2 separate regions of the Homo sapiens genome follow, and region 2 is linked to region 1. Evidence: fine-mapped expression QTL. A gene starts in region 1. The other region holds a variant in brackets. All regions are shown on one strand. Distances are between the middles of the regions. Region 1 holds the start of TTK (TTK protein kinase). Region 2 has its middle 47 kb from the start of BCKDHB.

What was found. PIP is the estimated chance that this variant, and not a neighbour inherited with it, causes the effect. A credible set is the group of variants that fine-mapping cannot tell apart.
Region 2: its variant is the best candidate, but not a certain one, in a credible set for the expression of TTK in whole blood (INTERVAL, PIP 0.80).

Annotation. Positions count from the first base shown.
Region 1 is chr6:80,003,442-80,006,365 of GRCh38, forward strand. TTK (TTK protein kinase) reads left to right here and starts at 1,208. Exons shown (of 22, transcript NM_003318.5): 1 at 1,208-1,272; 2 at 2,401-2,541. The coding sequence starts at 2,403. RefSeq lists enhancers at 245-1,119, 690-809.
Region 2 is chr6:80,057,730-80,060,653 of GRCh38, forward strand. No RefSeq gene overlaps it. Among named protein-coding and RNA genes, the nearest start is that of BCKDHB, 47 kb to the right of the region's middle. The variant C/CTTTA (reference allele first, on the strand shown) is at 1,324.

The sequences.
Region 1 (2,924 bases):
AGAAGTGTTAGGGTGAGGTCATCCAGCAACAGTATTTTAAGGAAAATGCAAGCTTTGTGATCAGGCCGCAAACAGATCAACGAGAATTGGAGGAATAATAAACTCTTTCCAGGCAGAAGCATTAGATGCAATGGTGCAAAGGTAAGTGATTAGCCAACCATGGTATAGCAAGTCATTTTGCTCTGCTGAAGCAGAAATACTAGCTAGCTGACACAGAAAGATGCATTAAGTGATTGAGAAGGGCTCTCACGCTAGCTGGGTGGCTATCCAGAGCTGGGAATGTGAGGGTTCTAAGGATAGCTTTGGAGTTAACAAGTGACAGCTGCAGTTAGTTTCCTATACATACACAAAACCAACCCGTCCTACCACAGAATATATGTCATAATGCTGGCACAACAGACACATCCCTTTTAGTTTTGCAGACGAGGAGTAACCGTTGCCCTGGACCACAAAGCCACTTAGCGGCAGAGCCTCGCACCCGCGAAGATTATTACTAGGGAGATGTTTTTACCCCTGAGGACACCTGAGCCCTTAAGTGGGGCAGGCTTCGAGGGAGGGGGGCCGATAAGGCGACTTCAGACAGGGCAATCACGATGGGCGCTTGAGTTCTGCGCAGAATTTTGACAAGGGGGAGGGTCTTGGCTTGAAGACAGAGCGTGGAGTCATTTAAGGATAATGGAAGGGCATAAGCAGAAGCTCAAGGATAAAAAGCACTGAAATTCTTGAGCTGGCGGCAGGGCTGAACGTAGCTCAGTGAAAGATCCTTTCTTGCCACATCCTCTCTAAGCCAGGCTGTGAGAACCGCGGGAAACGAAGGAGAAGGGTGGCGGTGGGGTCAGTAAAGGGCCGGCCCAAGGTGCATCTTTTAGGTCCTGATGCTAGGAGCAGCCGTCCCTGCCCCTATATTCCTCTCACTGGGTAGGTTTGCTCGGGAGTGGCTACCTCCCAGGCAAAAATTCGGCCTGGTTAAACTGGAAAGACCAGGAAAGCCCGCCCACGGGCGTCCGGGGAACGCCTGCAAAGTGCCAGCACCCTACCAACCCAGGCGCCGCACGGGTGGGGTCGCGGCCGCAGGCTCTTCCGGGGCGGGCCTAGCCTGACGCAGGAGGAGGGGCGGCCCCCGTCGCACAAGAACCAATCACGACTGTCGCTTCTACGTGGCTAGCATTGACCAATAGGAGACCGTAGTGATAGCGACGGGGAAATTCAAACGTGTTTGCGGAAAGGAGTTTGGGTTCCATCTTTTCATTTCCCCAGCGCAGCTTTCTGTAGGTAAGTTCTGTCTTACCGGTGCACCGGCGCACTGAGGAACAGCCGCAGCCGGTGTAGGGGCTCATTGTTAGCGCTGGTCGGTGAGGGGTGGGGCGAGGTGGGGGCAGCTCGGAGCCAGGTATGCGACGCGGCTAAACGAGCTGGAGGGGGAGGGGATGTCTCACTGCCTCAGCGGGTCTGGCCGGTGGGGTGATGCAGGAGGTTTTGTTGAGGAAGTAAGAAGTGGGTGTGGCCCACGCTGGAAAGAAGGGGTGGTGGGGTACCTGCGCACAAGATCGTTTTCCAAAGGACAGTCTCTCTTGTTTTGGGGGTTAGAACTGGGAAAGAAGCGGGTGGCCGTGATCTGACAGTTATCTTTCAAACCTGACTTAAGAGGTGGAGTGATACCTTGCTGCAACTTTATGACTTTTTTTCATTGTTAAACCTGAAGACGGGGCAGCATTGTTATCAGTGACACTGAGTTGGTGTTTGAGAGTCACAAAGATACGATTAACAATAAGACTGCAGACACTTTATTGAACAAACACCACCACCATGCAGATAAGCAAGTGCTCAGTACCAGTACAATAGTTTCTTAGTGTTAGATTAAGGTAGCAAATCGTGATTCTGCTAGATATGCACAAGAATAAATCTGCGGATTTCCTAATTATCAGTAAAGCCCCATCATGTTTATATTCTGCTTTGAAAGCACTTGCACTGGAAGATTTACTCAAGTAAAGCAGGCGAATAAAGGAATTGTTATTCCCATTGCCAAACGAATTCTTTATGTCTATGTCACTACCAGAATCCAAGCAATCTTTATGTGTATGTCGCTACCAAAATCCAAGCAAACACTCTATCATATTTTTTTTAAGTGACACTAAATTTGCAGATTTCTACAGTGTGACGTCATTGATGTTATATTGGGGGAAAAAGTATACTTGGCCTATGAAACCTTGGTGAATAAATTACAAAGATGTGTACCTTGTTGTTGTGCACTTACCTCCATTAATACTAGCCTAATAATAGCTGCATTTAGATGTGTTCACAAAACGAATGCTTTAGTCGTCTGGGTTCTAAAAAGCTAGTGCATTTTTTTCTTTGATGCTAGTTAAAGTAGGAGTTATGACTGTTCAGTTTTTTTCTTAGAAATGGAATCCGAGGATTTAAGTGGCAGAGAATTGACAATTGATTCCATAATGAACAAAGTGAGAGACATTAAAAATAAGTTTAAAAATGAAGACCTTACTGATGAACTAAGCTTGAATAAAATTTCTGCTGATACTACAGGTGAGTTTTTCTTTTCTTTTAAGTTAGTAACTGTTTGTTGGGTATCCTCTAAGGTAAAGATATAGTACTAATCACTTTATTTATAATTTACTCATGTGTTTATTGTCTTTCTCCTCCATTAGAATGCAGGCTACATGATGGCAGGGTTTTTGTCTGTTATATCCACAGAACTTTGAATGGTGTCTGGCACATGGTAGGTAGGCACTTAAACATTTATTGAACAATGATTAATGGGTGAAAATGCCCAGAGTTTAATACTCTAGCTCTTCTAAAAGTATTAGCTCAGAAGCCTGATTCTTTACTGTATTTCAAATGGTTGGTCATTTGAATGGTGACCTTTGGATAATTTTCTTACATCTATACTAACCTTTAAATAGATGAGG
Region 2 (2,924 bases), 54 kb after region 1:
TGATACAATCCTGTCCTCACTAGTCCTTTAGGTGAAGCTCTTGCCGCAATCATCTTTCCAGAGCATTGCACGTACTGCTTCCCATTTTTGTGTGCACTGCAGCAGACACTAACTGCCTTCCCAGTAGCCTTTCCCCATCTGTCCAGGGGCAGAGATCTGCTTCTGCAGGAGTATCCATCACTTCCCTGTGGGATTCAGACAAGGCTGGCTCTATTCCCAGTTCAAGCGGTCAGTCCTGATTGGCTTAAATGCATCGTGGTGGCCTCATTGTCCTGCCAGTGATTGGTTTAGGCACGGGCATATTTCTTAATTCTAGCCAATGAAAGATGAAGAATAGTATGCCAGGGGACTATAGGAAATAGATTTTTATTCTTAAAAATAAATTCATGGGAAGTAGTCCCTACTCGATGTAGTTATGCCTGCATTTGATATCATGAACTGCGGTAGCTTTCCTGCAACTATGAGGAGAACTAAGAGTAGGAGGGCAAAGCAAAAGGATGAAAATATATATATATATATATATATATGGATCCCTGGTGATGTAAAGCATGAAGTGATCCAATCCTGAAGCCATCTTACCTTGAGAGTTCTTGTTAGATAGGATAATAAATTTTCCTTATTATTTATGCCAAGTTGAATTGTATGTTATCTGTTATTTGTAGTTACAAGTACCCTAAATACATACAAAGCCTTGTTCTGCACTGACGAAGGCATTTCTTCTCTAGGTCTCTAGAACTGCAAGTTCTACCATGTTTGTGAAGCAACCCAGAAAAGTCCCAGTTCAGAATAATTTTCCTCTCCGCTGAACTCCTTTATTGACTCAGTTTGGCGTTTCCTTCCCTCCCTCTCTTTCTCTCTCTCCACTGTCACCACCTCTCTTTTTCATCCTGTAAATGTTAAGACCCTAGATTAGATCTTTTTGGTATTTGCAATTTACAAGCATACCACCCAAAAAGCAGAAACACTTGAACATATCTTCTATAGTACTAAAGTTGGAAGGAGAACAATTTTGGTCTTTCTAGTCTGCACATCGGTTTGTACTTATTTGTGTGATTGGCAATATATTTTAATGTAAAGAGTGTAGATTTTGGAGTTTATAAACCAGAGTTTGACTCCAGGCTTCTCATTTACTAACTGTAGGTTTCATGTAAATTGCTTAACCTTTATAGATGATTTCTCATATATAAAATATGGTTAATAATACATTGCAGCATTAAATAAGGATTAAATGGGGCAACACAAGTAAAATGCCTAGGATATAATGGACACTCAGTAACATCATATGTAATAACTATCCATGTGTATCTATATACACAAATTTTT[C/CTTTA]TTTATTTATGATTGCTGAAGAAGAAAATATATGCAAAGAGGACAGTGAGCAGTGGGCAGTGGAAGAAGTAGAGGGTCTGATCAGATCTGGAAGACATTTAGACACCATTTCCTTAATATTCTCATTGTACGGATGAGGAAACAGAGTCTCAGAAGTTTTCTAAGATTTGTCCAAAGTCCTACTTCTCCTTGCTGTATTTTTATGTATACAGATTAGCTTCTTTTCCCAGAACATGTGATTCTGATGATTAAGATATATCTACTTCGAAGCTTTGTTTCTTCTACCAACATTAGAACTTGGGTCAGTTGGCAAAGAGAGAAGTGTCAATAGAAACACTTTCAAGACCAGGCCAAGTAGAATTAGGTTAAGAGAGTACTTGTCAGGGAGATTTGAAAAAAATCACATCATTCTTCCCAAGAGATACAACGTGAAACTTGGGAATGTGAACTATTAACCAATGCAAAGAATAAGGAGTGATGGGGATAATCTCCATTCTAATTTTGATATATTATCATAGATGTTATAATCTCAGAAATTCATTTAGTGTTGTGTTCTTCATCCATACATGGCTTTGTTATCTAAGTGATATTTTCTCCGTTATTTGAAAAGTCACAATAAATGAAAGAAGAAGAGTAGAAACAAGGAAAAGAAGAATGTTCAAAGCTTTGTTCACCATTAAATTTAAGTCAAACACCCCACAGGACCTTGACTTGCTCCAACTCATGACACTATTGAAATTTACTCAAAAGAATACTCAGTCTTTTTTTGTGTATGTGATCCAGGATTAGCAGGATTTGTAGATAAAACAGTGATTCGACTTTGTGTTCATTTGCCTGTGTATTCAGTACAGCAAGTGTGCCTGTGTTAGGAGACAGAATATATTCCTAAACTCAGAAGGCATGACATAAACATTATGTCCTGAGACCAATCACTGCTAAGGTAGAGAAGGGAAAGAAGCCCAAGTAGGTCTTGGGTCCCCAGAAGAGAAGTACAGGAGTCTTGGCAGCTGACATACCTAGTCACGGGGTGGCTGTTGCGAGAGTAAATCACAGTACATGATTATGTAGGTGAGCCAAATACATGAGGGCAGGAGACAATATTCATGCTTAAGTTACAAAATCACCTCCAGGAGTCAGCCAGGAATCTTGCCAATCTTCATCTTCCTTCCTTCCCACTATGCACATCCCAGAAAGACTAAAAATCAAGGGAACTGGGCATTCCTGTAATTCAGCCTCTTGTCTCCATACTCTTTCCTGTCTTGTACTCTCCAGACTCACGTATATACTGAACGTTCTTCTATTATCTTCCTTATTTGAAATACATATTTTTTCTTTTTAAACTCAACCATTTAAATTCTTTTACTTAAATTTTTTCTTTGCTTCCTTCTTCCTGTCTTACGTTAGATTATAGAGGTCATATTTCAACTATTTTATTACAGTGAAATATTTTTGTTTAAATTGTTTTTCAATAATGGTAAGTAGAATTGTTAAGGTTGTCTTATGTGAGACTAAACAAATATTCACAGAGAAATGATCATCCAGTTTCATGAAGGGACACATTCAAGAATATTTATGACAACACATTTATAGGCTAGGACTTG